Regions from separate parts of the Homo sapiens genome. Here all the other regions are linked to region 1. Evidence: fine-mapped QTL for protein levels in blood plasma. A gene starts in region 1. Each other region holds a variant in brackets. All regions are shown on one strand. Distances are between the middles of the regions.

What was found. A credible set is the group of variants that fine-mapping cannot tell apart. PIP is the posterior inclusion probability: the model's chance that the variant is causal. Sun 2018 read protein levels with aptamers (SomaScan).
Region 2: its variant is the best candidate, but not a certain one, in a credible set for the plasma level of the PLA2R1 protein (Sun 2018, PIP 0.51).
Region 3: its variant is the best candidate, but not a certain one, in a credible set for the plasma level of the PLA2R1 protein (Sun 2018, PIP 0.71). The variant lies in the coding sequence of PLA2R1. If it changes the protein, the assay may bind it differently, which can mimic a change of level.

The regions. Positions count from the first base shown.
Region 1 is chr2:160,060,969-160,063,732 of GRCh38, reverse strand. It overlaps PLA2R1 (phospholipase A2 receptor 1), which reads left to right and starts at 1,118. Exons shown (of 30, transcript NM_007366.5): 1 at 1,118-1,438. The coding sequence starts at 1,330.
Region 2 is chr2:159,979,720-159,982,483 of GRCh38, reverse strand. It overlaps PLA2R1 (phospholipase A2 receptor 1), which reads left to right. Exons shown (of 30, transcript NM_007366.5): 14 at 2,570-2,654. Among named protein-coding and RNA genes, the nearest start is that of LY75-CD302, 76 kb to the right of the region's middle. The variant ACACG/G (reference allele first, on the strand shown) is at 1,264.
Region 3 is chr2:160,027,754-160,030,517 of GRCh38, reverse strand. PLA2R1 (phospholipase A2 receptor 1) reads left to right here. Exons shown (of 30, transcript NM_007366.5): 5 at 1,555-1,668; 6 at 2,157-2,300. Among named protein-coding and RNA genes, the nearest start is that of PLA2R1, 33 kb to the left of the region's middle. The variant A/G (reference allele first, on the strand shown) is at 1,587.

The sequences.
Region 1 (2,764 bases):
CTTTTGCCATGCTATGCACCCAGGGCTTCTAAGAGACAAGGTATGGGACCATGACTGAAACTCACCACTGCTGTAGAACAGTGCAGAGGAGTTAATAACCCTAGGATCTCCCTTACCAACAGGGAAGGATAAAGTCCATGGATAAACGCTTGCCCCTTTTGTCCTCGACAGACAGTTCTGAGGCTCTCTGAGGTTCCTGCAGGACTGAGCACCTTTTGTTAAGGCCATGGCCAAGGCAACCACTTTCCCTTCTTCCCCATTTGGCTCTGACCTTCAATCTTGCTCCCTGCTAGGCATTTCCTTCCAGGCTCTGCTTTCTGCCCCTCCCCTCCCCCTCTCTTATGTTTTAATGACTAATGTCAAGGTCCCGCTGAGGAAAGGTCTTATATGAGCCTGTTCTCAGAATATTAAACGCTTCCAGTGTTCTGCTGGTTATTTGAAGGAGGACAGTTAGAACGACTACATTCTAGCCAGGGCTGTCCTACTTGCTAGAGAGTAACTTTTGCTGGATTAGGAAGTAACCTAGAGCAAAGCACTTCGACTTTCTGGGCAGGGTTTCTCAGCTGTAAAAATGGGATAATAGGGACCCCGGCTACTTTGCGGGGCTTGGGGGATCAAAGGAGTTGGAAAGAGGAGGTTATTTCAAAACCGAAGGAGCTGAATAGAAGAATCTCCGGGTTACTCTGGGGCAAGGAAGGTGGAGACCACGGCGTGGCCCCTCAGGTGTCTCCAGTGCTCCACAAGTCAAAGGAGTCCAGGACCCTCCCAAAGCGCCTGCGTCGCGGAGCAGCTGGGTTCACTCTAGGCTGCCCGCTGCAAATCCGCGGTGTTTACCAGAATCCAGGTGGTTTGCAAACCCGGATGTCAGGCTCCTTGTCCCGGAGATTCTCAAATCGCTCACCCACAACTCCTCTTCGGCCTCCCCCAGAAAGGAGAGAGCAGGGCTGCAAGCTAGAGGAGCGGAGAGTGTGACCCGAGCAGCCTCACTCCGCCTGTCCCCACCCCAAAGGCAGGAATTTCTGGGATGGGCAGATGGCCCACCCCTCCTCCTCCTCCTTCCCCAAGCCGCAGTGGGTGGGGCGAGGAAAACCTCCGCGACTTTCCCGCATCCCAGCCCAGAGCCCCGAGTGTCGGTTCACTGTGGAGACAGCGGTGGCGGAGTGGGTCTCCAGGGCTCTGGGCTGGCAAGGCCCCCGGAGGGGGTGGGGCGCGGAGGAGGCTACGGATCCGCTTCCGCGCGGCGGGGCCGGGTGCTTGGGACGCGGCTCTGGGCTCCCGGGATAAGGGGCTCCCGGGACAAGGGGCTCCCGGAGAGCCCAGTGGTTAGCGATGCTGCTGTCGCCGTCGCTGCTGCTGCTGCTGCTGCTGGGGGCGCCGCGGGGCTGCGCCGAGGGTGTGGCGGCGGCGCTTACCCCCGAGCGGCTCCTGGAGTGGCAGGGTGAGTCTCCCAGGGTCGGGGACTGGATCGGTACGTTGGGGAGGGGGGTCGGGGTGGTCGAAGGAGAGGAAGAAGGGGCGAAGCTAGGGGCCAAGCTGGCGGGCAAGGGCGGCCGCGTTTGTAGGGGTTCGTGTGTCAGCAGTCCTGAGCATGGGGGGAGCGGGTGGTGTCCTGCAGCCTCTTGTCTAGGCCCAGCACCCCACTTGCGCGGCCCGGCACCCTCCTGGCTCCTGCGGGGGTCGGGCGGCGGGGGCGGGGGGGCTTGGTCTCGCAGGTAACTCCTCTCGGCTCTGGCGCCCGGAGCCAGCCCGGGATAGGAGTGTCGGAGAAGTTTCAAAACGGAAACTTTCTGAGAGCTGCTTATTTGGGACGGATAAATGATAGCAAAAAGATGGCTCAGTTCGTCCCCTTGCAAAGCAAGCGCTCAGGGTCTGCGTCGCCACCTAGGAGTGACCCCCAAGCCAGGCCTCCCCAGTCCATCCCTTCCTTAAGGAAAACTTTTTTTGTTTGTTTGTTTTTTGAGACAGGGTCTTGCTCTGTCGCCCAGGCTGTAGTGTAATGGCGGGATCTCGGCTCACTGCAGCCTCCGCCTCCCGGGGTCAAGCGATCCTCCCACCTCAGCCTCCCGAGTAGCTGGGACCACAGGTGTGCGCCCGCACGCCCAGCAAAATTTTTGTATTTTTGGTGGAGACGGAGTTTCACCATGTTGCCCAGGCTGGTCTCCAACTCCTGGGCCCAAGTGATCCGCCCACCTCGTCCTCCCAAAGTTCTGGGATTACAGGCCTGACCCACCGCACCCCGCCTGAAAACATCAGGCCAGGTGAGGGAGAGAAGCCCCAGTGGCTCCATGAACTGCGTGATCTGAAGCCTTTATGCCTTAGTCTCTCTCAGTGGAAAAACGGGGTTCAATTCAGCAAACACTTATTGAGCACCTACTACACATGAGACTCAGAAGGTTGTGTAAAGAGAGGGAGGAGAGATTTCTGGCCTGCAGGGGCCCGCATTTGAGAATGGGCCACCTCAGGCAGAGAAGCCTGCGCCTAAGTGCAGAAGTCCATATATGCAAGTAGGAGGGGGACAGGAGGGAGTTAAATATGCCAGGAGGAGCCTCCAGACAGCCTCCATCCTCTCTGCCTTTGGAGATAAGTTTGGAGAGAAGGGGTAACACAAGATGTGATCAATATCTGCGTTCACATTTTTTCCTCCACAGTAGAATATGTCTACATTTTTGAGGTAGTCTTTTCTAGACTGTGTTTCCTAAGCTCCCTGGAGGCTTAATCAGGGGCAGGTAGAACAAGACCATTCTTATTCTAAAGTGACCAAAGT
Region 2 (2,764 bases), 81 kb after region 1:
CCACAATTCCCTTTTTTAAGAACACTTATTGACATCCCACAGAACTGCTAGTCCCTACGGGAAATGCTGACATGAGGCCATGACTCAGGAACCTGGCTGCTCATCACACTTGGTCGGGACACCTTTTAATACAGAGCTTTCTGGCCTCACACCAGAGCTGCTGAGTCAGACTCTCTGAGTCTGAAGAAAAGTTTAAGAAGCTTTCTGGCTAATTGGATTATCAGCCAGGTGTGAGGCCGCAAATCCAAGGGATAGGTGATAGTCTCCATTGTTCAAAGTTACATTTTGCTTCATTACTTTAGCTTCCTTTAAAACATATTTGCATATTCTGTCCTTGCATTTTAGTGAGGTTTGCCATATGACAACCACACACACACTGCTTCCCAGTTTGCTTTAAGATCAAATGTCACTGTCATTTCTGTTTATGTAAGTTCTCATGCTTGAAATGTCTAGCAGAATTTAGTCCCAAGCTAAATCATGGATCTTCAATATCTGATCACAAAAGTCATATAATATGAGCCAGGCACAGTGGGTCACAGCACTTTGGGACACCAAGGTGGGAGGAACACTTAAGGCCAGGAATTCAAGATCAGCCTAGGCAGCATAGTGAGACTCAGTTTCTACAAAAAAATTTTTCAAAATTAGCTGGGTGTGGTGGCCACACCTGTAGTCCCAGCAAAACCTAGTTCAAAGTTACAGTGAGGTATGATTGTGCCACTGCACTCCAGCCTGGGCAACAGAGCGAGAACCGTCTTTAAATAAAATATTTAAAAATTCTTGACTGGGTGCAGTGACCCACACCTGTAATCCCAGCACTTTGAGAGGCCAAGGCAGATTGCTTGAGCCCAGGAGTTAGAGAACAGCCTGGGCAACATGGTGAAACCCCATCTCTACCAAAAAGTACAAAAAAATTAGCCAGGTGTAGTGGCACACATCTGTAGTCCCAGCTACTCAGGAGACTGAGGTGGGAGTATCAATTGAGCCTGGGAAGAGGAGGTTGCAGTGAGCCAAGATTGTGTGCTACTATACTCCAACCTGGGCGACAGTGTGACCCTGTCTCAAAAAAAAAATTATCAATAACTGTGTATGTTTCAGTTTATTCCCAGACTACCAGAGAATTCAGTCAAATCTGATGCTTAATTATAGCAAACATACCAGATCTCATAGTTAGCAGGTATAACAGGTATGCTGCTTTTCCTTCCTATGGCACTGCTTTTCTATTTCTATTTTATTAATCAGACACACACACACACACACACACAC[ACACG/G]TATGCACATACATGTGTGTTTATTAAATATTGTACAATTTCAGGAAACTGATGAAGAGAAAGTAAATACCATTTCATCTTCCAGGAGCCAGTATATAGCAGGAAAGACATAGAACTCTGAATTCAGTGAGGAAAGAAAAAGGTCACAACACCAGGAGAGTGACATGGATTTTCAGCCTATGCCATCGAGATTAATGTGCTTGGCTTAAACTGAAGGTGGCCATTCTCACCTTCTCCCAGCCTTAAATGAAAGTTAGTATCATCATGACAATGTCCAACCGGGCATCAGTGATCTCTTGGATTTCTAAGCTGAATTTGAATTTAATTTGTGTCATCCAGGCAGAGTAGCTGACATATCCGAGAAGGAATTCCTTGCTTCTCTGCACAAAGGAAAATAAAGTATCTGTCCTGACATCTGAATATTTTAAATCTTTGATTCTTCAAAATTATTCTCAGAAAATTATCTTAGTGAGATGGTTCATTGCACAGGTAGGCTTTATTACTCGATTTATTGAGTATTCTGTGGACACATTTGTACTCTGCCTCATAGAAGGGAAGGTGATTCTCTGTGGAGCTTCTCACCAAGTATAAACCAATGGTGACAACTGAAGTTAATGAACCATGGCTCAGGGTGACTGGCTTTAGAATTATTTGTGTTGATATCTGAAAAAAACCCAAAACCTACTGTGTACCTTTTATTCAGTGAAGATGATGGTGGTTGACTTTCAGAGAATACATGAATGTTTAACAAAAGAACAACAAATCAAAGCATAGTAAAGTAGAATAAATAGTATAGTGAAGTAGCAAACACACAGTAAAGTAGTGAAAGGTCCTCTTGGCTAGAGATGTTCCAAAGTTTCTTACCAATTTTCTTTTCATGTGTTCTTGTCCTGACTGAAAGGCTTTGCTATTCCTGATGAGAAACTCATGTTCTCAATAAAAGCTGACTTTTACCCACCTGTATATCACCTGTGAGCAAACCACACAAACCAAGAGTAATAGAATGTGAGGCTTATTCTTCTCTCAGTTCATGTCACAGCACAGGGTTTTGCACATTTAAAATGTTCAATGCTTGTTGACTTGATCAATCCTGCCAGTAGCATCAGCTGTTTCCTGCATACATAAATATTTTAAAATATTTTTTCTTTTATTATTATTATACTTTAAGTTTTAGGGTACATGTGCACAATATGCAGGTTAGTTACATGTGTATACATGTGCCATGCTGGTATTTTTTGAACCTTTCACATAATGCTGTAAATTTGATGGGAAAGGCAAAGCTTTTGTTTCTTCTCTTTACAGGACAGAAGAAAGGCAGTTCTGGATTGGATTTAATAAAAGAAACCCACTGAATGCCGGCTCATGGGAGTGGTCTGATAGAACTCCTGTAAGTCTTTTCAAACTGGAGAAAAGGGATGGATTCAAAACAAGTGGGCCTGGGACCACTTGGTAAACCAACCAAGAGAACCTAGAAATGATGGCCAGAGCTCCCATGAC
Region 3 (2,764 bases), 33 kb after region 1:
AATTCTAAGATAAGAATAATTAACGTTTTAATATTTTAACTAGATTTTAAAATATCACTTGGCACTTGCCTGGATGTGAAACGTGAAAATTTCTCCCTGCCCTGTCAATCCATTTCACTTCTTATCATCATAAGACCTGCTAAACGATTCAATCGAATGGTGCTATTGAAAGGAATAATCAAATAGACATTAGAAAGAGATTCCATATGAATGCCACAGAAACTTGGAAGGGTGAAACCCGTGTATAGTATGCTGTTTCTGTTTATTGATTTCTGGGAGTCTCAAAATTATAAAGCACCTTTTTCTCTTTTCTTAAATGGGTTAGTTTCTTTGAGTTTTTCACAATTGTATTGAAATATCTAGTCACTGAGGATGCTGCAGCCTTGTTATATGACTACAATGACCTTCACAACCTGGGTAATCATACAGTCTATCATCCAAACTGAGATTCTTTTGATAGTAAAAGGGACTGTGATTAATAATTATTCTGGAAATACCAGCATGAACCATGAGTTTTCCAGGAAAATGGGGGCATACGGTCACCCTGTTTATAACCCTTATCCGTCAGGGTCTTAATCTTAGGCAGGACCCCTGCGTCTGACTAAAAATAAATTGGGCTCTGAATCAGGTGAATTGTAAGCGAACAATGCTCTCCTTTATAGATTAAACGAGTAAATGGCAACATTTCAAAGCATCACAAAATTGCCACTTTCATTATGTTTCTGACACTAGGTTTTGGTTTTTTTCCCCCCGAAATTTTGCTGCATAAGTAGTACCTATTTATTCTGGAATAATGTTTAAAATTTAGGTGCACAAAAAGAAAAACTGAGGAAAAATTCCCATAATTCTTTAATTTTGATAACTATGTCTTTCTGCATGTCAATGCATGTTTTTATTCATAGTATCTATAACAAAAATGGTATTGCATTAAACTGCAAGTTGTAGTGGACTGGTTAAGAGGAGGGGCCACAGAGCCAGCCTGCCATTAAACTTCTCCCACCTCAAGCTGTGGAAGCAGCCTCCAGTTTGCACTGCACACAGCCTTAGGTCCCAACCTGCTAGGGATCCCCCGAGACACTCTGGTCCCTCCTGTTGAGCAGACATCTCCTGGTGGCTGTCACACTGTACACCCCTCCCTGATCTACTTCAGCACACCGTTTTACCTTTGAAGATGTGCCTCTGTTCACTTTCTGGGACTGACCCTGCACACCTCTTCCTCCACCCTATTAAACCTTTAAGTTCATGAGCTCACTCAAGTAAGATGGCCTCAAGTATGCAACCATGCACCCTTGTCTAGATTGACAACCCTGAAAGGCAACCTTTCTGGGTACTTGCATGAAGCATTCACAGTTGAAAAACAGCTGTCAGTGAGCCTGCTCTGTTTCTCAAGATGGTGGGAGCCTGCTTTATCACTCAGAAGCACCACGTGCATTCTGTGCACCTTTCCCGTCATTGACTGGAATTAGTTTCTGACTCCATGATCCAGGAATAGGAGAACAAGAAAGATGTGTAACACTGGATTTTTTTTTTGAAGCTCCATAATTTTCATTTCAGAGCACATGAGCAGTAAAACAGTGGAGGTGTGG[A/G]TGGGCCTCAATCAGCTGGATGAACACGCTGGCTGGCAGTGGTCTGATGGAACGCCGCTCAACTATCTGAATTGGAGCCCAGGTACCCGCAGTGTTTTCTTTGCCTTCGTCACGTGGCATCATCTTGCACCCTTACACAGCAGCATTTCCCATGCACATAGGACATGCTTTTTTGAGAGTAGTGTATAAACATTTTTTAGCCTGACTGAATTCCTTTAAGGCAAGCTTTTCCAAACAAGAAAATAGGGACCAGGAAGATAAGCTTTTTAGCCAAAGTTGCAGGAGGATTTGGGTGTAAGCCAAGATTCCAGTCTGCTGTTTTAAAAATAGCTACAAATTGCAAAATATCTCTCTACTTTAAGATAATAAAAGTGGGTCTTTTGGAATCTTTGGGAAATCATTTAATTGACATGCCTGGACTGTAACTGCAAAATCATAGATAACATCTTATAGGATTTACTATATATGACAAATAGAAACGCTGTCCCCCGATGCTGAAAACCACATTTCAATATATATTAAACTAACTGCTTTTGCTTCTAATATTAAAGACACTCATTGTATTTTCAGAGGTAAATTTTGAGCCATTTGTTGAAGATCACTGTGGAACATTTAGTTCATTTATGCCAAGTGCCTGGAGGAGTCGGGATTGTGAGTCCACCTTGCCATATATATGTAAAAAATATCTAAACCACATTGATCATGAAATAGTTGGTAAGCGTTTTTATTTTAAGTTGTTCTTAGGTGTTGTTGACTTGTCCTCTCAATATATGTAAATTTCTCTATTTTTTGCTAATAATTCATAATGTAAACTTAGCTAAATCTAGTTTATATTTATATGAAAAGATGTGTAACTAGACAATATCTGTTATGTCAAAGGGACTGTGATTTTAACAAATGCATTTAGGTTTATACTAAAAACTGAAATAATCTGAGCATAGCAAACATTTTCTTCTCTTTTAAAAAATTTGCACTGTTAGTCATTCTGTATTAGAGAAATAAGATACATTTCTTTTTCTATTCTAGTTTTGAGTTTATTGTTCCCCTAGAAATTAAACATAATTTAGAAAACAATTTTATATAATTATTTACTTCATTGATTTTCTGCCACACTCTGAATCTCTTATTAGTAACACACCTTCCTCCCTGAAATTACATGCAGAACTTTTAGATGGAGT